7 linked regions of the Homo sapiens genome follow. The protein of the gene in region 2 purifies or fractionates together with the protein of the main gene of each other region. This does not show direct contact. Each region holds a gene or a part of one and is shown on either strand. Other genes may lie near its edges.

Region 1 (3,658 bases), about 180 Mb from region 2:
AAAGGATGATAAATTCCTCGGAAACCTGCCTTTATTCTGTTGGTGAGAAAAATCCTTTAGGAACGTGTTGGTTCCCTAAGATGGGTGATCCCAAGGAACAAAACAGTCATTACACATGAACTTTTTTTTTTTTTTTTTTTGAGACGGAGTCTCGCTCTGTCGCCCAGGCTGGAGTACAGTGGCGTGATCTCAGCTCACTGTAACCTCCACCCCTCGGGGTTCAAGCGATTCTCCTGCCTCATTCTCCTGAGTAGCTGGGATTACTGGCGTGTACCACCATGCCTGGCTAATTTTTGTATTTTCAGTAGAGACGGGGTTTCACCATGTTGGTCAGGCTGGTCTCGAACTCCTGACATTGTGATCCGTCTGCCTAAGCCTCACAAACTGTTGGGATTACGGGCGTGAGCCACCGTGCCCGGCCTACACATGAACTTTTTATGCTAAGAAAAGACATATCAAGATATATCAGAAAGTACAACTTCAATTCAAACACCATGAAATTTTGTCAAGCAAAAATAGTCTTTATTCAAATTTAATGGAAACAGGGGTCACTATACTTTGCAAGACGGGGAAAAATAAAATTAAAAAAAATTCTTTTCTTTTCTTTTTTAATATAAAACAATATAATCACAATACCAGAATATGGAACTCTACAGTTTATTTCCTATGGGTTACTGCAGGTATCAATTTTCCTCGACTGTGCTATTCACAACTTTGTTAAGTCCAAAAATATGAAACCAAAGTGGTAGGAAACTTAAGACTTAGCACTTTCACTAAATGGCATACATCGAAGGGCATCAATTCAAGAGCAAAAATGGTTGAACTCACCATACCTACCTATGTGGTCATTCCAGCCTTAGAGCCGTCCAGGTTACTGAGCTCCCTGTAGGAAAGGCCAGGCCTGAAAGCCAAGGCGTTTTGGATATTCTACTGTGGGCCATGAGTAAAAGGGGATTTTCAAAGAGAAAATTTTTTTCAGTCGAGCAGGAAGGCCTGGTGCCAGGAGGCTTTACTGAGAGGAAGCACTTAGATTTAACAATTATAGACACACCATTAGGGGAGTTAAAAATGTACAGCAGTGACATGTTCTACTCCAATCACTTGTGCTACGGCTACCAAACATGTACAAAAGACTTCTCGGGTAGTTCCAGCTGTGGCCATAGCCAGTTAGGACCTTGAGTGGGACCTAGATCTAGATCGGGAGGGCGATCTGGAAGCAGACCTGGATCTAGACTTGGACCGAGATCGGGTTTTTGAAGCTGACTTTGATCTGGAGCGTGATTCTGATGGAAGGTTTGGTTTCGATTTGGAATTGGATCTCGACCTGGACCGGGTCTCCTGATTGGTGCCAGCATTCTCACTCTCTCCTCGACCTTCCCTCTGGCTGGATTCAGACTTGGCATGTTCCCGCTCCTTTGACACGGAGCGGGATGGAGATCTGGACTGGGAGCGGTCAGTGTCTTCCTTCTTCTTCTTCTTGCTGCTGCCCGCCTTGCTGTCTCGCTTGCTGCCTCGCTTTCTGCTCCTCTCACTCTTGCTGCGGCTGCGACTGCGACTGCGGCTCTCCTCTCTGCTTCTCTTCCTGCCCTTCCTCTTGTCCTTGCTCTTGCTGCGGCTCCTGCTCCGGCTCCTGCTGCCCCCTTTGCTCCTGCTCCGGCTCCGACTCTGGCGGAGGCTCTTCTCCTGGCTCCTGCCCCTGCTCACACTCCCTCGCTTCTCCTCCTCCACTCTCCTCTCCTGACTCCTGCTCCGACTTTTGCTCTTACTTTTATGCCTGCTAGGACTCCGGCTCTTGGGTTTCCCGACATTGTCATTGTTTTGGATCTTCTCTTCAGCTTGGTCTTTGCTCTTGCTGCGGCTCTTGCCAGCGCTATGGCTGCGGCTGCGGCTCTTTTCCTTGCTGGGGCTCCTGCTTTTCTCTTTCTTGCTCCGGCTCCGACTCTGGCTCCGGCTCCGGCTCTTGCTCCGGGAGCGGGAGCCCGACCTGAGGAGACATGGGATACTGTTTGTGTCACATGTGACTTCATGCTAATCAGGAGATAAAAAGACCAAAGGGCATACATGTGGAGTTACACCCCCCAATATAAAGCATGGCTGGCACTGGCTGAGGATTGTTTTCTGAACCCTCACAATGCCAATCAGAAGCTGGAAAAACTGGCCAGGTGCGGCGGCTCATGCCCATAATCCCAGCACTTTGAGAGGCCAAGGCAGGCGGATCGCGAGGTCAGGAGTTCAAGAGCCAGCCTGGCCAACATGGTGAAGCCCCGTCTCTACTAAAAATACCAAAAATTAGCCAGGCATGCTGGCACACGCCTGTAAACCGAGCTACTCAGGAGGCTGAGGCAGGAGAATCGCTTGAACCCGTGAGGCAGAGGTTGCAGTGAGCCGAGATCGCGCCACTGCACTCCAGATTGGGCGACAGAGCGAGACTCTGTCTTGAGGGGGGAAAAAAAAAAAAAAAAAGAAAAAGAAGCTGGAAAAGCAGGAAGACTGGTCACATGATTGAAATCCAAGTGAGGCTGGGCACAGTGGCTCATGTCTGTAATCGCAGTAGTCTGGGAGGACTATTTGAGGTCATGAGTTTAAGATTAGCCTGGGCAACATAGTGAGACCCTGTCTCTAAAAAAAATTAAAAAATTAGCTGGGTGTGGTAGTATGTGCCTGTAGTCCCAGCTACTTGGGAGGCTGAGGTGGAAGCTTGCTTGAGCCCAGTGAGGTGAGGCTGCAGTGAGCCATGACTGTACCACTGGACTCCAGCTTGGGTGACAGAGTGTCTCTTTGAAAAAAAAAAGAAAAAAAAGTGAGACAGGGTACAGGCATTCCCTGCTGACCACCTCTACTTATAACATGGAAGACATACCTGGACCGAGATCTACTCTTAGAATGACTGCTTTTGCTGCTGCCACTTCGGCTTCTGCTCTTACGGGAATGTCTGCTTCGAGAGCGAGACCTAGGGGGAGAAAATATTTTTTAATACTTGCTGACAAGAGGCTGCTGATGAGCATCAATCAAGACTATATATATTATATATATATATTTTAGATGGAGTTTCACTCTTGTTGCCCAGGCTGGAGTGCAATGGCGCGATCTCGGCTCACCACAACCTCCACCTCCTGAGTTCAAGCGATTCTCCTGCCTCAGCCTCCCAAGTATCTGGGATTACAGGCATGTGCTACCACGCCTGGCTAATTTTGTATTTTTAGTAGAGACGGGGTTTCTCCATGTTGGTCAGGCTGGTTTCGAACTCCTGACCTCAGGTGATCCACCTGCCTCGACTTCCCAAAATGCCAGGATTACAGGCATGAGCCACCGTACCCGGCCAAGATTTTCAATATGTACAGCACTGGCTGTGTCCAGGCACAAACTCTCTCTTGGGTTCTAGGTCCACAGATGAAGTCACCTGCAAACCTTCCATCTGGATGGTTCACCTGAACCTCTTAGCAGCTCCTGAAATTCTAACTGTCCCCGATGCCGGCTCCTTTTGCTGGGCTCCTTATGTGCACTGATGCCACTGTTATTCATATGGTTCCTCGTAACAGAAATCACAGCCATCCTTGACTCCCCCGTCTTTCCCCTATCCCCTTACACACCCACGATCATGCCTCCTGATCTTCGGTCTTTCTACCTCTGCTGCTGCCTCTCTGGGCAAGCCACCATT
Region 2 (4,255 bases):
AGGCTAGGCACTGCTGTCCATTCAGTCCCAAATGATCGATACAATATATAGTTGGTACTAACATTTATTGAGCACTTATGTGTCAGACACACAGTTTAGTATTCTATATACAATATTTAATAAAGCTATAATTTTTAGACTATATATAACGTAATTATATGTTTATAAATTTTATGTCTGTTATAATCTACTTAACAAAGCTATACAGTAAGTATTATCATTCCCATTTTGCAGCCAGGGATACTGAGGCTTGGACGAGGTTATGTAACTTGCCAAGCTGGTGGAGCTCACCTAGTGAAGCAGCCAATATAGAAACTTTCTTTCTGGCCGGGTGCGGTGGCTCACACCTGTAATCCCAGCACTTTGGGAGGCTGAGGCGGGTGGATCACCTGAGGTCAGGAGTTCAAGACAAGCCTGGCCAACATGGTAAAACCCTGTATCTACTAAAAATACAAAAATTAGCCAGGCATGGTGGTGGGTGCCTGTAATCCCAGCTACTTGGGAGGCTGAGGGAGGAGAATCACTTGAACCCAGGAGGCGGAGGCTGCAGTGAGCTGAGATCGTGACATTGCACTCCAGCCTGGGCAACAAGAGTGAAACTTCGTCTAAAAAAAGAAACTATCTTTCTGACAGTCTGGGTTTTTATCCATGTTGACTTATCAGGCTGTGACGTCCAGATGATAGTACTTAAAGTCTTCAAGTTAACTTTACTTTGAATCTTCAGACCAGCCCTGCCCAGGCTGAGAGCTCCAGTCTGGGTAAGGGGAGAGCTGGAGAGAGGCCTCCACTATCCCTCCACCACCCAGTGGCCTGGAATGGGCTCAGGAGACCACCAGGGATCACTGTCTACTCCTCCTCCTCCTTCAACGTTATTCAGGGAGCCAGGAGGGATGGGGAAGTTCACCACACACTCCATGAATACATAGGAAAACTCCCCCTAACACACACCCACTAAATTGGGGCCTGTCTGTCCACAGCTGTACATTCATCCACAGCTGTATTTTTATCTTCAAACTCATTCTGCTGACTCAAGCTGCATTTTCTGAGCACTTTCAGAACAACAGAGTCCTGGCTCCACGACAGGCCTGGTGGGAGGAGATAAGGGAGGAATGAGGGAATGGGACTGATCCAACAGAATGGCCTGCGACCTCAAATTGCGTCCCACTTATCCCCTACAATATGCTGCTCTATGGGTTTCCTCAGGCTTCCCGTCTAGCCTGGGCCTCCTGGGCCCTCCCACTCCCACCCCAATAGGCCAGCCTGTTTCCCAGGCCTCGGGCAGGTGAGTCTACACCAAGGCGGTCTCTGCTCTGAAAGGAGATCTGCTAAGTGCCTCAGGAAAGGTAGTCCGAAGCCCCTAGGACCTCAACCCCACCCCTGAGCAAAGGTTCCAGGACCCCAGCAAGGGTCACTGCGGGCCCTGGTCAACTGGCAATGCCCGGCTGCAGACTCCAGGGCAGCAAGACAGCAGCTGGGCTATTCTTAGTCCCTGCTCCACCGGGACCGGGTCTGTGTAACAGCTGAAGGGCGAGTCCTCACCAGGTACCCACCATGCCAAACCCCTCCCTACCCCCAACTCTGGCCCCTTGGAAAAAGAGGAAGCATAGGGAACACGCCCTGGAGTGGGGAAAAGCTGAGCAGGTCAAGAGTGTCTGTCAGGAAGATGGAGGCTGATTCAGAGGTCAAGGGCAAGAGCAACTCACAGGACTGCAGTGCCTGGGGGGAGCGGAAGACTACAGGAAGGCCTGACCCGCACTAGGGAGAAAGCATGCAGGTCCCTGGGGCTTTTCTAGCAAGCCTGCCTAGGCCCAGAGCTCTGAGAAGCTGCACGGGATGCCTAGGTACCACCACATCACACCTGTTTGCCGTTTGCAGAACTCTGTCCTTCCCCACCTGAGACCTGGGAGGCGAGGAGAAAACAGCGGCCTTTCTCTCCCCACAGAGGGGGAAACTGAGGCTGAAAAGGGGACACAGTAACACACACACACACACACACACACACACACACACACACACGGTCCAGTCCCAACTCTGTACCCAGAGCTCGCCCCAGTTCTAAGTCCAAGAGGGCTCAGTCCCCTTTCCCTGTCTTAATAACTCACTCTTCCTCAAGAAAGCCGGCCTGGGCCTGAGCACCCCGCGGCGCCGCGGCCGTCGGCTCCCGTCCCGGCTCCCCCAAGTCCCGGACTGTGCGCGCCGCAGTGACTCATCCTGCCCCTTTCCGGTGAAGCCCAGACAAGAGAAGAAAATAAACGCAACTTTCCAAAGAAAAGTCTGACACGGGAGGCTGCAACAGGAGCCAGCGGCCGGTCCGCCAGCCGTCGGCCCGGCCCGGTCCGGCCCGGCCCGGGGCTCCGGGGAGGGGCCGCTCCCCGCCCACACCGCCGCCCCGCCTGGGACAGCGCGGGCACCTCCTGCCTGCCCGCCCTCCGCGGAAGAAAGCACAGCTCAGCGGGGACCCGTGCAGGCGCCGGGCACTCGGCACCCGCCCCGGCAGAGCGTGTGGGACGCGCCCTCCTCTGGGATTCGCGCGGGGCTCGGCGCGCAGCGCCCCGGACGGCCACGGCGCAGCCCCATCCCGCGGGGCGCAAAACACGCGACAGCGCGGAGCTCGGCCGTGCACTGCTGCTCCCTTTCCCGCGCCGGGACCCTCACCCCTGGGAGAGGAGGGGGCGCGCTCCTACCTGGCCGAGGCGCGCGGCTGTCACCCGGAGCCAGCGCGTGCAGGCTGGTTCCGCCCCCCCTTCCTTGCCCCCCACGCGCGCCAGCCGGCGGCTTTTAAATCTCCAGGTTACTCCGCGGGGGGAGAGAGCATGCGCGCTGGGACTGCCAGGAGGGGGGCGGGGCGAGGCGGGACGGAGGTGGGGGGTGCTGCGAGGGGGGATAGAGGGGTGGGGCTGGTACCCAGGGGAAGAAAGCGGGAGGTCTCGAAGCTGGCTTTGTAGCCGCGCCGCGACGGGCAGCCCCCGCGTGGCTCCCAGACTGCCCTATCATTACCTAGGGCAGGGCACCGCCCCCTCTGTCGCTCGCCACCAAACATTTAGGTGAAAGCTACCCGGCTTCGCGGGGCACCTCCCCTCCCCTACTCGGAGCCAGTCTGCTGCGACCATTACCCAGGCGTGCCATTCTGGCCACCCGATCTCCAGGCAGAGCTGCTCCCTACCTGTCCAGGACCATCCCTTCAAAGGAGATGTCACATTCTCTCCGAATTACCCTTCTGCTCTTTGCTATTCTCCGACGCAGACAGAGCTAACTCAATCCCTCTTTCTGCGCTGAAAACCAAATTCCAATTTTTTTTCTTCTTAAGAGTGTGTACGGGGAAGAATGGATGATAAATTGCCAATGAAATGTTCTCTTTGTCAGCTGTTGAGCAAGGTCCGAACAGATACCTGTTCCAGAATGTCTTTGATGGAGTCCCAGGCTGGCCCTGGGGTTGGGGGTTGGGGGGCAGTTTTGTCTTTTTTTCCTCCATGGAGTTTTATTGGGTGGAGAGAAATCCAATTTAGTTGGATTGTTGACTTGAATACTACAAAGTCCCAGGAAGATGCCTTCGAAGGGGAAGACCTGGTTGGCCTTAGCCAACCAGGCACTGGGGCACTGGGTTCCAATGCTGGCCCTGTGTCAACAGCCGTATAACGTGGGCCAAGTCCCTTCCATGTTCTGGGCCTCTGTAAGAGGGGGTGAGCCAAATGATTTCTAAGGGCACCTTCCAGCTGAGAGGTAGAAGGAGGCAGAGAAGAAAGGGAGATAGAGAAGGGAGAGGAAATAGTGGCGCCCTGGTGGTAGTGGGGAACAGAGAGCAGGTGCCAGAGAGAGTTGAGAAGAGAAAAATCAAGAATCTACCTTCTGAGTCACTAAACAAGTTTAACTTGAAAACTGTCTCAGCGTTGCCTCCCTGGAGCAGACACACCTCTACCTGGGGACCCTCCTGGAGATGGCTTTCCAAAGTCTTTGGCATACCCTCTCGTGGCAAGCAGAGAGACTAGGGTGGAGTCCAGGGTCTCTGAGCTGGTGTCCCCTCTCCTCCAGGAAAGAGGTCAGGAGTCAGGGGAAATTTCAGGTCAGCTGGAAAATTACAGAGCCAGGAGAGAGTGGACGGTGGTATTTTGCAGGCTTGGGAAAGAACACTGGGAACATGAGAGAGTTGTCGCACCACAGACAAGTAAGAGCCCCCCTCTTCCTCCTGCCTCCCACCACTTCTTTCCAGGGGCCCTTGTGCTTTATGCCTTATGACAGGGGGATGAGGAAGGAGAGC
Region 3 (3,500 bases), on a different chromosome or scaffold from region 2:
GCTGGGAAGGAATTGAGGGACCCAGCAGGTGTTCCTTCTTGGTTTTTTTTTGTTTTTGTTTTTGAGGCAGAGTCTTGCTCTGTTGCCCATGCTAGAGTGCAGTGGCACCATTTTAGCTCACTGCAACCTCCACCTCCTGGGTTCAAGTGATTCTCCTGCCTCAGCCTCCCAAGTAGCTGGAATTACAGGCGCCTGCCACCATGCCTAGCTAATTTTTTGTATTTTTAGTAGAGACGAGGTTTCGCCATGTTGGCCAGGCTGGTCTCGAACTCCTGACCTCAGGTGATATTGCCCACCTCAGCCTCCCAAAGTGCTGGGATTACAGGCGTGAGCCACCGTGCCCGGCCACCAGCAGGTATTTCTTAGAAGCTGGGCTCTCCCAAGCCTGGCCTCCAGGTCAGCAGAGGGCTTTCTTCTGGCTCTCCCTAGAGCCGGTGTGGGATGACTAAGGTGCTGATGTGGCACATAAACTCCCTCATTCACCCGTATTCCCTGAGCACCTAACTGGGCTGGATGGTGCTGGGATCATGGCAGTGGCCAGGATAGCCCCAGGCCCTCCTTCATGGAGCTCACAGTCCAGTAGAATGGACACGGCCACCTCACAGCCACAGACAGTGACAGAGTGGTCAGAGATGGGGGAGCCCAGGGGCCCTGTGGAGACACCTGACCCCACCTGCGGATCAAGCAGGACTTCCTGGAGGAAGAGACACCTTAGCCTGGGGAGGATGTGGAGGAGCGAGCCAGGGGGAGGCAGAGAGTGAGTGTGCAGAGGGCAAAGCAGTGCAAAGAGGCTCTGCACCCCTTCCCAGTTCTTTCTCATGCGGTGCCAAGCACTGAGCTTGCAGTGTGTGGGGGAGATGAACATTAACTCAGTGGATACCCCAGGACAACCTCAGCTTGAGATGGGGTTTCAGTTTCAGTCTAGGCATCAGATGGGGACAAGAGGTAGCAGGGGGCTTCCAGGGGAGGGGAGGACAGCAAGAGCCAGAGAATGAGGTGGTGGGGTAGGCGGGGCCCTGTTGGCCGCAACATGCCCCTACTTCCCCAGAGTCTACAACACTGTGAACGGGAAGCAGAAGAAGTGCTACAAGGGCTCCCAGGGTGACGAAGGGTCCTTGCTGAAGGTGAGGAGTTGGAGACCCCTGTCTGTCTGCTGCCCTGATGGGCCACCTATTGTGACGGCCCACACCTGAGACCTGTGCCCTTGGTCCTTCCTCAGTGCACCGCGCTGCCCAGCACCTTCTCAGGCCTGGTTAAACAAGGATGCTTGCGAGAGGGTGGGGAGGGTGACCCCAGCTGTGTTTCCTTTATTTACAGAGCCCTTCCCCAAGTGGGGCGTCTAAGTGGGTTCCATTTTGAGTGGCAGCAGGGTATGGTGGGAAGAATCAGAGGCATGAACTCCCCTCCTGGTTTGCCCACACCAGCCACGGGTCACTCAGGACAAGGGGGGACCTTCTCAGAGCCTCTGGTCTAGGACAGTTATGGGTTCAGGTTCTGCCTCAGGCTGACTGTGTGACCTTGGGCAAGCATCATCTCTTGAAATGCACACAGACAGCTTGTCTCATAGACTTGTTCTCTGGAGGAGTTCAGTTTGCACATGTTCAGTGCTTAGCACAGGGCCTGGCTACTGTTGTTACTGCTGCGGTGGTTGTTAATTTCTTCACGTGTCGAATGGGAGCGGGAGCTCCTGCCCTGCCAGAGTCCCATGTGCTGTGCATGCAGCACGGGGGAGGGAGGGGCCCAGGCCTCATCATAAGGAAGAAGCAGGCAGCTGGAGTGACATGTGGGTCCCTTTCCTGGCAGGTCCATGTGGACCCCTCAGGCACCTTCCTGGCCACCAGCTGCTCTGACAAAAGCATCTCAGTGATTGACTTTTACTCGGGCGAGTGCATTGCCAAGATGTTTGGCCATTCAGGTGGGTGTGCCTCTCTGCTTGGGATGCCTCCCCACCCGCCCACACCCTCTGACTCCGAAGGCAAGTGCAGCCTCTCTGCTTTGTTTGCAGAAATTATTACCAGCATGAAGTTCACCTATGACTGTCATCACTTGATCACAGTATCTGGAGACAGGTGGGACATGGACCTTTGGGAGAGTTGTGGCTCAGATACCATGAGCACTGCACTCAGCCTGCCTGTGTAGAGAGCATTTCTAAACTGCCCAGTTTGGATTGTGGGAGTCTTGGTGTCACACCCAGCCCTGAGTTCAAATACCAGCTCTAAGCTGGGCATGATGGCTCACGCCTGTAACCCCAGCACTTTGGGACGCTGAGGCGGGTGGATCACTTGAGCTCAGGAGTTCGAGACCAGCCTGGGCAACATAGCAAAACCCTATCTCTACAAAAAATTAGCCGGGTGTGGTCATGTACACCTCTAGTCCCAGCTACTCAGGAGGGGGAAGATGGCTTGAACCTGGTAGGTAGAGGTTGCAGGGAGCACAGATCATGCCAGTGCATTCCAGCCTTGGTGACAGAGCAAGACCCCGTCTCAAAAAAAAAACAAAACACTAAAAAAACATATCCCAGCTCTGCCATTTATTTTCTTGTCACCTTGAGCAGGTTATTTCCCCTGAGCCTCAGTTTGCTCCCCTGTAAAAGACACCACCGTTTACATTTACCTTAAAAATGGTGTGATGAGGCCGGGCGCAGTGGCTCACGCCTGTGATCCCAGCACTTTGGGAGGCCTAGGTGGATGGATCATCTGAGGTCAGGAGTTCAAGACCAGCCTGGTCAACATGGAGAAACTGTGTCTCTACTAAAAATACAAAAATTAGCTGTGCGTGGTGGCAGGCGCCTGTAGTCCCAGCTACTTGGGAGGCTGAGGCATGAGAATGACCTGAACCTGGGAGGTAGAAGTTGCAGTGAGCTGAGATCGCGTCACTGCACCCTAGCCTGGGTGACAGAGCAAGACTCTCTCAAAAAAAAAAAAAAAAGAAAATTGTATGGTGAGAAATGAATGAGATGATATACATACATTCTTTAGCACATGGGTGGTACTCAAGGAAGTCCCTTTTGTCACTCCCTTTGATTTACCCCAGTTCTTCCCCACAGCCCCCTTCCTCAGGTCTTGAGGCCTCCAGAACAGGCCCTGGTTTGCTGGGATGCCCCAGACCTGGGCCCAGGGTGTGGATGTGGCAAGTCCAGCACCCCTGCACTAAGCGGATAGGGGTGTGTTTTCCAGGAGCATCTGGAGAATGGGGTCCAGGCTGTGGTGTGGGTGGCTTCAGGGTCAGCCACGGCAGCGGCTCCCATGCTTACTCTTCCTCTGCCTTGTGTGTCTCTCTTTGACCTCCGCAGCTGCGTGTTCATCTGGCACCTGGGCCCGGAGATCACCAACTGCATGAAGCAGCACTTGCTGGAGATTGACCACCGGCAGCAGCAGCAGCACACAAATGACAAGAAGCGGAGTGGCCACCCCAGGTCCTGGCAGCCCCTGCCTGTCCACCAGAGGGATGAGTCCCTGCCAGGGCCCCATGGAGTGATGCTGGGGACACAGTGGTGGCCA
Region 4 (3,500 bases), about 180 Mb from region 2:
CTCAAACGATTCTCCTGCCTTTGGCCTTCCAAAGTGTTGGAATTACAGATGTGAGCCACGGTGCACAGCCTGTGCCAGGTTTTAATCTGCTTTATCTTGGACTCCAGGTGAAAGTACATGGTTCAAGTTGCTGGTAAAAATATTTACTCTGATTTTCTTTTGTTCTTGATTTTCCTGTAGTTCAAACAAGCTGTATATAAACAGACAATGAAACTCTTTGCAGAGCTGGAAATTAAAAGGAAAGAGAGAGAAGCCAAAGAGATGCATGAAAGGTACATATCAGTATATTCATTTAAACCATATTTAAATACCTAGATTAACTAACATTGGTCTTTGGTGATTTTCCTAATGAGGGAATTATATAGTATACCATTTAAGAGACTATAAAAATAGTTACCTAAAAACAGTCAAGCTTTTGAATCACCAGGGTAAGTAGTTTTTTTCTTTGACTTTTGAGAATTATTGAATAGGTCTGTCCTTAGGGAGTGTATTTTTTATTTATTTTTTTGAGACACAGTCTTGCTCTGTAGCCAGGCTGGAATGCAGTGGTGCGATCTTGGCTCACTGCAACCTCCACCTCCCAGGTTCTAGCAGTTCCCCTGCCTCAGCCTCCTGAGTAGCTGGGACTACAGGTGTACACCACCATGCCCGGCTAATTTTTTGTATTTTAGTAGAGACAGGGTTTCACCATGTTGGCCAGGATGGTCTCGATCTCCTGACCTCGTGATCTGCCTGCCTTGCCCTCCCAAAGTGTTAGGATTACAGGCATGAGCCACTGCATGCTGCCAGGGAGTTTATTTATAATCAAGAGCCTTGTGTGTGTTCTTCCTGATGTCCTGGAGTGAAATAAGCAGTTATTAAGGCCATTGTTACTGAAGCCAGAACCTTTTGTGGGGCTAGTGGCTACAGCTTTGGTGAGTGTATAGTACTGTAGTGTCATCAGTAACAAAATGTTTAATGTTCTAAAATATGATTTCTCTTGAACATCAGAAATGTTAGAATTTCGCTTTTGTTGCCCAGGCTGGAGTGCAATGGCATGATCTTGGCTCACTGCAACCTCCACCTCCCCAGGTTCAGGTGATTCTCCTGCCTGGCTAATTTTTGCATTTTTAGTAGAGACGGGGTTTCACCATGTTGGTCAGGCTGGTCTCGAACTCCTGACCTCACATGATCCACCTGCCCCAGCCTCCCAAAGTGCTGGCGTTACAGGCATGAGCCGCTACATCCGGCCGAGTTTTGTTTCTGTATGTATTTTATATTGTTGCTTGGTAGGTACCAGTAACTAAAATTTGCTAGTTGAGGTTGTGTGAAATATCTTTGTTTTCGGATAGGGTTTTGTCCAGAGATCTTAAGAACTTTGGCTTTATAATGGTCATTCTGCTGAAATAAGGTGGCCTGTGTTCTCGACATAGCTTTGTCACTGAAAGAGCCCAAAACCTCAGATTGCTCTTGGCTGGGCTTTAGTTACTTTATCTGTGTAACAAGGATATTTATGTCTTTCCCCACAGCCATGCCCAAGTCTGATCTGCGTGTTTTAGAATGAGACATTCATGAAAATGCTATGAGCCCTTTCCAGACAGCCATCTTTGTAGACTTCTAGGGAATTGATTTACTATATATGCTTGCTTCTGTGGGGAGATGCCACCTTGTATGGTTAATTCAGTCTGTAAGTATCATATAAATACTATGATCTGGTTTTCCTCCTAGGAAACGACAAAGGGAAGAAGAGATTGAAGCTCAAGAAAAAGCCAAACGGGAAAGAGAGTGGCAGAAAAACTTTGAGGTAAATTTCCAAGGTGGCCAGGGATTCTAATTCCAGAATAAGGCAGCTTGGTTCCTGTGGCGCTCCCAGGACTGAGTGGGGCAGTCAGAGGGGAGTGGGATATGTGGGGAAGAGTGGGAGAGGTGAAGAATGAGGCTGGGCCTGCCTCAGCCTCCTGTAAGCTCTGTAGCCTTGGCAAGGACGATGAGGATCCCTGAATGGCTTTTTTAAAATTTATTTTTAAAAATTATTGTTTAATTTCTTTTTACAGCACACTAACAGTTTCACCCTGAATGGTTTTTTAGATTGTAGTAGGCACAGCTGCCCAGTGGGCTCAAGAAAAATGGATTGCACTTTTAATTTAGGGGGTAAGCATAGAGTATTGTGCTGCTTAGAGATCTGTTAGTAGATGCTGAAGTTCTTGTGCCCACAGTGTCCTACCTGCAGAGAGAGTTAGAACCTTTGAACTTGACTCTTCTTTGACACCCTGGTTATATGCTTCAGGTGGTTGGACAGAAGGATTGTGGCAACATTCGGTCTTTTCTTCTATAGGGTTTAGGACTCATGGTTAGGGGCTGGCTAATCAGAGTTGATGACTTTGTTTCTGTTGCACTTCATGTATGGAAAGAGAAAAAATGATAATGAGGTAGAGGTCCTAGTGGCCACCCCTACACAACTCGCTAGGCATTGTACTGGCTTTGGAGCAGCCATCCAAGTTTTGGGGGGCAGCAGAAAGGTGCAGTGGAAAGAGTAGCTGTACTGCTAGCTAGCTGTATGGCTTTTAGAAAATCATTTAACCTTTTTGAGCCTCAGTGTTATTTGTGAAGCACTGGTAGCAGTACACACCATAGTCGGCTTTTGGTGACAATTAGAAATACCATATGCTGGCCGGGCGTGGTGGCTCAAGCCTGTAATCCCAGCACTTTGGGAGGCCAAGGCGGGCAGATCATGAGGTCAGGAGATTGAGACCATCCTGGCTAACATGGTGAAACCCTGTCTCTACTAAAAAAATACAAAAAATTAGCCAGGTGTGGTGGCTGGCACCTGTAGTCTCAGCTACTCAGGAGGCTGAGGCAGGAGAACGGTGTGAACCCAGGAGGTGGAGCTTGCAGTGAGCCAAGATTGTGCCACTGCACTCCAGCCTGGGTGACAGAGCCGTCTCAAAAAAAAAAAAAAAAAGAAAAAAAAAGGCCGGGTGAGGTGGCTCATGCCTGTAATCCCAGCACTTTGGGAGGCCACGGCAGGCGGATCATGAGGTCAGGAGATCGAAACCATCCTGGCTAACACGGTGAAACCCCGTCTCTACTAAAAATACAAAAAATTAGCCGGGCGTGGTGGCGGGCCCCTTTAGTCCCAGCTATTCAGGAGGCTGAGGCAGGAGAATGATGTGAACCCGGGAGGCAGAGGTTGTAGTGAGCCGAGATCGCACCACTGCACTCCAGCCTGGGCAACAGAGCGAGACTGCATCTCACAAAAGACAACAACAATGACAACAAAAAAAACCATGTTAAACGTCTAGCCTCGAGGTCCCCAACAAATGGGGCCTCAGTGTTGTGATGATTATTACTGATTTCGTCCTCCTCTTGCAACCTGCAGCTCATCCTGCGTTCTAGGGGTGCTATGACACTTTCTTGGGCCCTTGGGAGTGGGAAGAAAGCTCTATTCTACTTTTTTTTTGAGACGGAGTTTTGCCCTTGTTGCTCAGGCTGGAGTGCGATGGCGTGATCTTGGCTCACTG
Region 5 (3,500 bases), on a different chromosome or scaffold from region 2:
GAAGATTTATACCAGAAGTCAATTTGCTTTGTATGCCATGAAATCAGCACCTATTTGCCCAAGAGTTGACACATTTTCTGTTGCCCAGGCTGGAGTGCAGTGGCACAATCTTGGCTTACTGCAACCTCTGCCTCCCGGGTTCAAGCGATTCTCCTCCCTCAGCCACCCCAGTAGCTGGGACTACAGGCACATGCCACCATGCCTGGCTAATTGTATTTTAGTAGAGACGAGGTTTCCTCACCATGTTGCCTGGGCTGGTCTCGAACTCCTGAGCTCAGGCAATCCGCCCACCTCAGCCTCCCAAAGTGCTAGGATTACAGGCATGAGCCACTGCGCCCACCCTTGGTTAGCAAATTTTTAACCAAATTTATTGAGGTACAATTTTTTTTTAATTGTATCCATGTTAAAGCACACAGTTCAATAACAAATGTATATACCTGTGTAACCACCAAACCAATCAAGACATGGAATATTTCCATCACCTACAGCATTCCTTTGTGCCTCCTTTCAATCTTCCCCACTATTGCCAGCCAACCACTGATCTGCTTTCTGCCACCATAGTTTGCACGTTTTAGAATTTCATATAAATGGAATCATATAAAATATATTATTTTGGCCTAGCACAGTGGCTCATGCCTGTAATCCTAGCACTTTGGGAGGTTGAGGCAGAAGGATTGCTTGGAGCCAGGAGTTTGAGACCAGCCTGTGCAACAAAGTAAGATTCAATCTGTATAAAAAAAAAAAAAAGTAGTCTTTTGTGCCTGCATATCTTATTTTTATTAATATATATTTATATTGACAGAGACAGAGTCTCGCTCTATTGCCTAGACTGGAGTGCAGTGGCATGATCATAGCTCACTGTAGCCTTTAACTCCTGGCCTCAAGCAATCCTCCTGCCTTGGTCTCCCAAACTGCCGAGACTGCAGGCATGAGTCACAGTATCTGGCCTTTTTCTATATTAAAATTCATTTGTCAAAAATCCTGCTTCCAGCTGGGCACGGGAGCTCATACCTATAATCCCAGCACTTTGGGAGGCTGAAGCGAGAAGATCACCTGAGGTCAGGAGCTTGAGACCAGCCTGGTCAACATGGTGAAACCCTGTCTCTGCTAAAAATAGAAAAACTGGCCGGCGCAGTGGCTCACGCCTGTAATCCCAGCAGTTCGGGACGCTGAGGCAGGAGGATCACAAGGTGAGCTGATTGAGACCATCCCGGCCAACATGGTAAAACCCCATCTCTACTAAAAATTCAAAAAATTAGCCGGATGTGGTGGCACATGCCTGTAGTCCCAGCTACTTGGGAGGCTGAGGCAGGAGAATCTCTTAAACCCGGGAGGCAGAGATTGCAGTGAGCTGAGATTGCGCCACTGCACTCCAGCCTGGGCAACAGAGCGAGAATCCATCTACAAAAATAAATAAATAAATAAATAATTAGCTGGCCATGGTAGTGGACACCTGTAATCCCAGCTACTCAGGAGGCTGAGGCACGAGAATCACTTGAACCAGGGAGGCAGAGGTTGCAGTGAGCCGAGATCATGCCACTGCACTCCAGCCAGCCTGGGCAACAGAGCGCCATCTCAGAAAAAAAAAAATATTCTGCTTCCATCAACTTTCTAGTTCCTCATTTTTTAAAATTCTCTTTTTTGAAGAGACAGGGTCTCGCTTTGTCACTCAGGCTGGAGTGCAGTCGCATGATCATAGCTCATTATAACCTCCACCTCCTGGGCTCAACTGATCATCCTGCCTCAGTCTCCTTGAATATCCGGGACTACACATGTGTGCCATGTCACATGGCTATTTTTTTCTTTTTTTTAATTTTTATTTTTGTAGAGACAGGGTCTTGCAATGTTGCCCAGGTTGGTCTCGAACTCCTGGCCTCAAGTGATCCTCCTGCCTCAGCCTCCCAAAGTGCTGGGATTACAGGTATGAGCCATTGCACCTGACCCTGACCCCTCATTCTTTTTTTGAGATGCAGTAGAGACAGCATTTCACCATGTTGTTCAGGCTGGTCTTGAACTCCTGACCTCATGATCTGCCCACCTCGGCCTCCCAAAGTGTTGGGATTACAGGCGTGAGCCACCATGCCCAGCCTCAGTGGTAGACTTTTTTTTTTTTTTTGAGATGGAGTTTCACTCTTGTTGCCCAGGCTGGAGTGCATTGGTGCGACCTCAGCTCACAACCTCTGCCTCCTGGGTTCAAGCAATTCTCCTGACTCAGCCTCCCAAGTAGCTGGGATTACAGGCATGGACCACCACTCCTAGCTAATTTTGCATTTTTAATAGAGACAGGGTTTCTCCATGTTAGTCAGGCTGGTCTCAAACTTTCAACCTCAGGTGATCCGCTCGCCTCAGCCTCCTAAAGTGCTGGGATTACATGCATGTACCACCATGCCCAGCCTGATTTTATTTTATTTATTTTATTTTTTTGAGATGGAGTCTTGCTCTGTCATGCAGGCTGGAGTGCAATGGCGTGATCTCGGCTCACTGCAACCTCCGCCTCCTGGGTTCAAGCTATTCTCCTGCCTCAGCCTCCCAAGTAGCTGGGACTACAGGCATGCATCACCATGCCCAGCTACTTTTTGTATTTTTAGTACAGACAGGGTTTCACCATGATAGCCAGACTGGTCTCAAACTCCTGATCTCAAGTGATCCACCCCCCTCAGCCTCCCAGAGTGCTGCAATTACAGGCATGAGCCACCAAGCAGCCATGATTTTATTTTTATTATTATTATTTTTTGACACAGAGTCTTGCTCTGTCGCCAGGCTGGAGTGCAGTGGTGCAATCTCGGCTCACTGCAACCTCTGCCTCCCAGGTTTAAGCGATTCTCCTGCCTCAGCCTCCCGAGCAGCTTGGGACTACAGGCGCGCACCACCACACCCAGCTAATTTTTGTATTTTTAGCAGAGACGGGGTTTCACCACCTTGGCCAGGTTGGTCTCGATCTCCTGACCTGGTGATCCACCCGCCTCGGCCTCCCAAAGTGCTGGAATTACAGGTGTGAGCCACCATGCCCGGCCTTATTATTATTATTATTTTTTTTTTTGAGACAGGGTGTCTGTGTGCTGCCCAGGCTGCAGTGCAGTGGCATGATCATGGCTCACTGCAGATTGACCTCCTGGGCTCAAGAGAACCTCCTACCTCAGCCTCCCGAACAGCTGGGACTACAGAAGCATACCACCACATCCAGCTATTTTTTTTTTTTTTTTTGAGACAGAATCTTGCTGTCACCAGGGTGGAGTGCAATGGTGCAATTTCCGCTCACTACAACCTCTGCCGCCTGGATTCAAGCGATTCTCCTGCCTCAGCCTTCTGAGTAGCTGGGACTATAGGCACACGCCACCATGCCCAGCTAATTTTTATATTTTTAATAGACACGCGGTTTCACCATGTTGGCCAGGATGGTCTCGATCTCTTCATCTTGTGATGCACCTGCTTCAGCCTCCCAAAGTGCTGGAATTACAGACTATGGAATTACAGGTACCTGCCACCATGCCTGGCTAATT
Region 6 (3,500 bases), on a different chromosome or scaffold from region 2:
CAGTAATCTAAGATGAAGAATCTTAGGTTAGAATAACATTCAAAACCAGAATATAAACAGACTATCAGATATCTCATATTCCTGACTCTCTTGGTGAACAACTTACATAATTCTATCCTTTTCCAAGGTGACTACTATTGCTACAAAATTAAAGGGCGGAACACTGTGACATTTAATAATTGAATTTTGGCTGAGCATGGTGACTCACGCCTATAATCCCAGCACTTTGGGAGGCCGAAGCGGGTGGATCATTTGAGATCAGGAGTTCGAGACCAGCCTGACCAACACGGTGAAACTCCATCTCCACTAAAAATGCAAAAATTAGCCAGGTGTGGTTGTGTGTGCCTGTAATCCCAGCTGCTCAGGAGGAGACTGAGGCAGGAGAATCGCTTGAATCCGGGAGGCGGAGGTTGCAGTGAGCCGAGATCGTGCCACTGCACTCCAGCCTGGGCAACAGAGCAAGACTCCATCTCAAAGAAAAAAAAAAAAAATTAAAAAGTAATATTTGATGTTCCATCTTCTAGATTCCATCAATACTACTAAATAACACGTTTCACACTTGACAATTAAAACTGTAAATCATATAGTTCATTAATTATAATCATAAACTAGAAGGTAGCCAGAGAAGGATTATTATCCCCACTTTGCAGATTTAGATACTGAGCTCAGAGGTTTTAGGTCATGTACCTAAGGTCACATATATAGCAAAGGGTGGAATCGGTACTCAAAATTTAGGTCTTCTGATAATTTTTTCCTATGCCATATTATTTTAAAATAGCCATTATAGAAGCAGCAGTACACTGTAGATAAGAACAATGCACCAGCCTAGGAGTCTGAAAACCTAGTTTAAAAAGCCTTTTCAGAAAGTCAGAAAATTCAGCCAGGAGCAGTGGCTCACGCCTGTAATCCCAGCACTTTGGGAGACCGAGGTGGGAGGATCACTTGAGGTCAGGAGTTCGAGACCAGCCTGGCCAACATAGTGATACCCTGTCTCTGCTAAAAATACAAAAATTAGCTGGGCATGGCGGCAGATGCCTGTAATCCCAGCTACTCGGGAGGCTGAGGCAGGAGAATCACTTGAACCTGAGAGGCAGACTCCAATCTCAGCGAGCTGAGATTGCACCACTGCACTCCAGCCTGGGTGACAGAGTGAGGCTCTATCTCGGGGGGGGAAAAAGTCAGAGAATTCTATGAAGAAAACACAGCCTGCCACTTACTCTCACTTATTAAGCACCTGCCTGTGTTAGAATTTGTACCAAGCAGCAACAGTCACATCCTTTCCTCAAGTCCAAATTATCACTGCCTCCATTTATTGCTTACCCTATGGGAATGAGGAAAGAAGAGATAGATCAACCTTAGGTAATTACAGAGCATATAAATCTATGGAGGTGCTAGGTAATGATTTTTAGAAGTATACCCCATGATCCAGCTGGCAACTTAAAATCTGGAAAAAAAAAAAAAAGAGGCCAGGTGCGGTGGCTCATGCCTGTAATCCCAGCACTTTGGGAGGCTGAGGCGGGCAGATCACTTGAGCTCAGGAGTTTGAGACCAGCCTGGGCAACATGATGAAACCCCATCTCAATGAAAAATACATTAAAAAAAAAATTAGCGGACATAATGGCATGTGCCTATAGACCCAGCTACTCAGGAGGCTGAGGTGGAAGGATGGCTTGAACCCAGGAGGCAGAGGTTGCAGTGGGCTGAGATCACGCCACTGCACTCCAGCATGGGTGACAGGTCCAGACCCTGTCTCCAAAAAAAAAAAAAAACCTGAAAAACGTTTTATTTATAGACTTCTAGAATACAATTTTCAGACAATATAATGCAAACGCATGTTTCACTTACCGCTGGGGTAGGAGTCTATCATTAGCCAGGTAGCCTGGCTTATGAATCTCTTTATTGTAATCTCCATACTTGGCTTGGACAGCATAGGAAGCCAAAAGAACTGCAGTTTCTGGCGGGCAATATATCTCATCATTTAAGATGGCTTCTTTAACTTGCAAGAAGAAGAGTCTCTGGGTTATTTCTTGAATTAATTCCTCAGAAACATCTTCAGGAAAGAATTTAGCTCTAAACTTGAACTGTAAAGGATTCTCTTTTTTAACATCCTGCTGTGTTACCTGGAAAAATAATTTCAAGTATAATCAACAAAAATCTTAAGTTTACAATAATTAGACCTAGTCACATCAAATTCTTTTTGGAAGAAAATGAAGTGAAATAGATTCTAAATCTATGAAGATTTTAGTGTGTAATAGTCTAAATCTGTAAACAAATATATGTGGTAAAAGATTCTATGCTCTTGAATGTGACCTATAACTCAGATTCTAATAACCAAATTGAAAACTTTTTTTCATATTCTTGAGAAGCTTATCCTACAGGTATTTACATCAAAATTGAAGTACTTAGTATGCCATTTGTAATATCTGCTTTAATATTTGTTATAGGCTAAGTTTTCAAATAGGAAAAGTAAGCATTTCTTTTTTTTTTTTTTGAGATGATAAGCTGATGGTGCCTGATTGAATTTAAAAAAACATGGTACCTCATAATGATTAACAGATAACTACAAAAGGAAGCTTGCAATCAGTCAGACTTAGCTTTTCCAGCACAAATTCATAACTTCAACTTAACATAATTATTAGTTTAATGTTATCGTACATATTTTACCTTTTTATTTAGTTTAAGCCATGTAGAATAACCTTTGCTGTCTACATACTGCAGCCCAAAAAACCAGACCTCACGCAAACCAACTGTTTTCACCACCTAAAACACAACAACAACAAAAAAACACAATTTCAGTCCAACATACACATTGTGTCTAGATGATACTACACTTCAAAAGGAGAACAAAACTATGTAAGTATACGTATATTCCTTTGCCATAGAAAAGGCTTTCCCTAAATTTAAGATATTAAAGGAACATTTTTGAAAACTCAAATTCAAGTTTTCTATACTCAATTTTTCTTTTTTTTTTTTTGAAAAGAAGTTTTTTTTTTTGTTTTTTTTTTTTTTGTTCTTGTCACCCAGGCTGGGGTGCAATGGCACAATCTTGGCTCACCGCAACTTCCGTCTCCATTCAAGTGATTCTCCTGCCTCAGCCTCCAAAGTAGCTGTGATTACAGGTATGCACTACCACGCCTAGCTAATTTTTTGTATTTTTAGTAGAGATGGGGTTTCACCATGTTGGCCAGGTTGGTCTCAAACTCCTGACCTCAGGTGATCTGCCTGCCTCGGCCTTCCAAAGTCTTGGGATTATAGGCGTAAGCCACTGCACCTGGCCTCTAATCCTCAATTTTGTAGTGTCACTTCAATCCTCTTACTTGATCCACTTTTTCATACCTCCTTTTCCTTATCTATCATGACCTCAACAATAACAAGAGTCTTGAAAATATATATATATATATATATAGTTTTCATAATCATACGTTCCAATTTCTATTTACCCCCACAAGTACCCTATTGGTATATTTAGGGCAAATGGTATCATTTTGGTGATAAGAAAA
Region 7 (3,500 bases), about 34 Mb from region 2:
CATGAGACGTCAGGTTAGAAAACTTACAATATTTCCACATCAGAAAATACACTGAAATAAAACTGCATTTCTATTTTAATTCAAGTCGTTCATTAAAACTAAACTTTAGGCTGGGCGCGGTGGCTCACGTCTACAATCCCAGTACTTTGGGAGGCCGAGGCAGGCAGATCACGAGGTCAAGAGATTGAGGCTATGCTAGCCAACATAGTGAAACCCCGTCTCTACTAAAAATACAAAAATTAGCTGGGTGCGGTGGCACGCGCCTGTAGCCCCAGCTACTTGGGAGGCTGGGGCAGGAGAATCACTTGAACCTGGGAGGTGGAGTTTGCAGTGAGCTGAGATTCCGCCACTGCACTCCAGCCTGGAGACAGAGAGAGACTCTGTCTCAAAAACAACAACAACCACCACCACCACAACAACAACAAACAAAAAACGAAAACCCTGAACTTTAACTTTGCCAAGGCTTTATACTATATTTGAATGCCATTAATCAGTCTACAAGCCAACTCGGAGAAGAACAAAAAAGTTGATTAGATCTAGAAAAAGAATTTTATTTTAAAGTATAATTACTCCAGGAAATTACAGTTTAATAGCATATCAACTACACCATGGAAGCTTGCATGTTTAAACTGATTAAACAGCAAACCTGAAATTATGAACTAGGTGCAGTCATTTAATTATGATAATCCAACATACTCATTAAGCTCTATGCCAGTTCAGTTTTAGAGGTATTAATGCATGTGAACAAATGAGATTTTGTTTAGTTAAATGTCTTGGAGTCAGAAAAAAGCAGGGGGAGAATCAGTATATGTGACTATGAAGCCAATACAATTCTGCAGATAAAACAGAAATGAAGCTCATCTAATAACTGAGAAACACTTCAGAGACGTCTGTTCATATACAGAATTAGAAAACACGGCTCTAGCCCATATTTTGTACTGCAAATGCTATCATAAAACAATCACTTTTATATTGATTACATATATTTAAAATATACAAACCCCAAACTGTAACCAACATAAAGCTCTTTGTAAAGTTTTTAAAAGAGAATGAAGAATACTATCAAACCTTTATTACAGCTGTTTTCACTTTCTTGTTTTTCTACCATGGGCTCTAAATTAGGTTCTCTGGGTTCAATTTTCTCCTCTAATTTTTCCCTTTCCTTCTCCAGCTCACATTCCTTTTCTTGTTCTTTCATCTTTTGTAGTTCTTTTTCCTTTTCTTTCTGCCGTTCTAGTTCTTTTTCTTTTTCTTGCTTTCTTTCTTTCTCCATTTCTCTTTGTTTTTCCTGCTCCTTCTCCAGCTCTTTCTCCTTTTCCTGCTGTCTCTCTCTGTCTTTTTCCCTCTCCTTCTCTCGCTCCTGTTCTTGTTCTTTTTCAAGTTCTTTCTCACGCTCCCGTTCTTTTTCTCGCTCCCTTTCCCTAATTTCCTCTGGAGATGGTTGTTTTTCCAGGATGCCAAGCTTCTCATCCAATCGTTTCAGTTTCTCCGCACAAGCTGCCTTCCTTTGTTCTTCCATTCTTCGCTCTTCCTCTTCACGCCGTTTACGAGCACGTTCTACTGCTGCAGAAATTTCTGATTGTTGTCTTCGTCTTTGCTTCCATATTTCATCTTCATCAGCTACTTGCTGCTTGGAGGGAAAGGGGCCTGGTCTTCCAGGTACTGCCTGTCGATCTGGAGGTGGATGCTGAAACATTAAGGTATCAGATGAGTTATGACAACTCTATTTCTGACTAACACTGGGTATCAGGCATGGAGAAGGAAAAACCCCACAAAAATATCAGAAATTTCTCTGATGAACATACACATTAAAATGAAAACACATAAGATGGGAAATATATTACATCTAGATAATTCACCAAACTAAGACCAGAATAATTAATCCAGCGGTCCAATGTTTACTGAGTATGTACCTATTATTGTGCCAGACGTTGTTGCTCATTCAGTATTTGCTGAATAAAACTAGAAGCACAACAGTGAATCTCAAAATCTAAATTTAGAGACAAAGGAAATTTAGCATGGATACTTTAGAAGCAGCTGCCAGAGTTGGAATGTCTAAGGGAGAGAAATGAAGGTATTAAATATCCAAAATGATGGCATGTGAGCCCTGAGAAAATTAAGGTACAGCTACAGGTAAAAAGCACAGAGCCAAAGAAGCAAAGTGAAAAAGACAGAGTCAGTGCTGTAATGATACCCCAAAGGAGAAGAAATTCCTACAAATTAGTCTGGGTGAAGAAAAGTTCTATCTTTAGACTGAAAGATCCAGAAAAGCGTATCTAGAACCCGGAGTGGAGAATCGGAGGATCATCTGAAACATCCAAGTTTCAATGACTAAATTTTCATTAATGTGTTATAAAACAATGACAGGTTTTAAAATCACTGCTTGCAACTATGCAAAAACAATAAAAGTAATTAAAAAAATGTTTTTAACATATTGATTTTAAAAGCTACTAGGGTGAAGAAATCTTAAGAGCCATATGTAACCCAGCTGGAATGCTTATAAAAAGATTAAACAATGACACAACGAAAACACTTGACTATCTTTTTAAATGAATGCAGACTACCATTTACTAATAGTGCCATCATATGCAAATTACTTCATCTCTCTTGTGCTGAGTTTCTTCATCCACAGCTCAGAGATAAGCTGAAAAACCAAATATATTAGTGCCTAATTTACACAACTCACTTCATAAAAGTAAAATTTACATAAAATGTGCTGTGCTGCACATATTTTAAGTGTATAGTTTGATGAGTTTGGACAAATGATACACCTGTGTAACCACTGCTCCAACGCAGACACAACATTTCCATCACTCCTCTGCCTCCCCCTGTGGCCCCAAGCACCCCAACCCTAACCTTGTATAGTTCTGTTTGTCCTAGAATTTTATATACATGTATAAAATTATATTCTCTTTTGTGCTAGCTTCTTTTGCTAAGTATAATGGCATTGAGGTTATTTTATGTATAAGTAGTTTGCTCCATTTTACTGCTGGATAGTATTCCATTGTGGGCACGTTGTTTCATGTATGATAGACACGTGGGTTGCTTCCAGTTTTTAAACTATGAATAAAACAGCTATGAACATTCATGCGTAAGTCTTTGTGTAAATGTATGTTTTCCTGGCTGTTGGATAAACAGCTACAAGTGAAAATCCTGTGTCATATGGTAAATAGATATTTCATTTACAAGAAACTGCCAAACTGTTTTCCAAAGTGGTTATAAGGTTTTCCAATGTATAAGGGTGCCAGCTGCTCTATACATCCTTGCCAACACATGGTGTCATCAGTCTTTAATTCTGGCAGTGCAGTAAAATCTCAGTGGTTTTAACTTGTATTTCCCTAATAACTAAAGACACTGAATATCTTTTCATGTGCATACTGGCCATTCTTACATTTTCTTTTGAGAAACAAATGTTCAAGTCTTTTTGTTTAACTACGTATTATTGAGTTGTAAGATATTAAAAAAAAAATAAAAATACGGCCCAGGCTAGACACGGTGGC

The links.
Region 1: the proteins of SLC45A3 (region 2) and SRSF4 purify together in Homo sapiens (affinity purification with mass spectrometry; one large-scale study listed by BioGRID and IntAct). This does not show direct contact.
Region 3: the proteins of SLC45A3 (region 2) and WDR62 purify together in Homo sapiens (affinity purification with mass spectrometry; one large-scale study listed by BioGRID and IntAct). This does not show direct contact.
Region 4: the proteins of SLC45A3 (region 2) and DNAJC8 purify together in Homo sapiens (affinity purification with mass spectrometry; one large-scale study listed by BioGRID and IntAct). This does not show direct contact.
Region 5: the proteins of SLC45A3 (region 2) and DRG1 purify together in Homo sapiens (affinity purification with mass spectrometry; one large-scale study listed by BioGRID and IntAct). This does not show direct contact.
Region 6: the proteins of SLC45A3 (region 2) and RDX purify together in Homo sapiens (affinity purification with mass spectrometry; one large-scale study listed by BioGRID and IntAct). This does not show direct contact.
Region 7: the proteins of SLC45A3 (region 2) and PRRC2C purify together in Homo sapiens (affinity purification with mass spectrometry; one large-scale study listed by BioGRID and IntAct). This does not show direct contact.

Annotation. Positions count from the first base shown.
Region 1 is NC_000001.11:29,147,243-29,150,900, forward strand, and holds the end of SRSF4 (serine/arginine-rich splicing factor 4), read right to left. Parts: intron 2,951-3,658; coding exon 2,861-2,950; intron 1,985-2,860; coding exon 1,168-1,984; 3' UTR 501-1,167; downstream 1-500. UniProt on the Homo sapiens protein: Plays a role in alternative splice site selection during pre-mRNA splicing. Represses the splicing of MAPT/Tau exon 10.
Region 2 is NC_000001.11:205,677,710-205,681,964, forward strand, and holds the start of SLC45A3 (solute carrier family 45 member 3), read right to left. Parts: upstream 2,801-4,255; 5' UTR 2,685-2,800; exon of another isoform or gene 2,661-2,684; intron 1-2,660. UniProt on the Homo sapiens protein: Proton-associated sucrose transporter. May be able to transport also glucose and fructose.
Region 3 is NC_000019.10:36,089,397-36,092,896, forward strand, and holds part of WDR62 (WD repeat-containing protein 62), read left to right. Parts: intron 1-1,048; coding exon 1,049-1,124; intron 1,125-1,803; coding exon 1,804-1,915; intron 1,916-2,005; coding exon 2,006-2,069; intron 2,070-3,292; coding exon 3,293-3,415; intron 3,416-3,500. UniProt on the Homo sapiens protein: Required for cerebral cortical development. Plays a role in neuronal proliferation and migration.
Region 4 is NC_000001.11:28,202,030-28,205,529, reverse strand, and holds part of DNAJC8 (dnaJ homolog subfamily C member 8), read left to right. Parts: intron 1-180; coding exon 181-272; intron 273-1,707; coding exon 1,708-1,783; intron 1,784-3,500. UniProt on the Homo sapiens protein: Suppresses polyglutamine (polyQ) aggregation of ATXN3 in neuronal cells.
Region 5 is NC_000022.11:31,416,604-31,420,103, reverse strand, and holds part of DRG1 (developmentally-regulated GTP-binding protein 1), read right to left. Parts: intron 1-3,500. UniProt on the Homo sapiens protein: Catalyzes the conversion of GTP to GDP through hydrolysis of the gamma-phosphate bond in GTP. Appears to have an intrinsic GTPase activity that is stimulated by ZC3H15/DFRP1 binding likely by increasing the affinity for the potassium ions.
Region 6 is NC_000011.10:110,262,115-110,265,614, forward strand, and holds part of RDX (radixin), read right to left. Parts: intron 2,761-3,500; coding exon 2,665-2,760; intron 2,121-2,664; coding exon 1,846-2,120; intron 1-1,845. UniProt on the Homo sapiens protein: Probably plays a crucial role in the binding of the barbed end of actin filaments to the plasma membrane.
Region 7 is NC_000001.11:171,530,530-171,534,029, reverse strand, and holds part of PRRC2C (protein PRRC2C), read right to left. Parts: intron 1,688-3,500; coding exon 1,069-1,687; intron 1-1,068. UniProt on the Homo sapiens protein: Required for efficient formation of stress granules.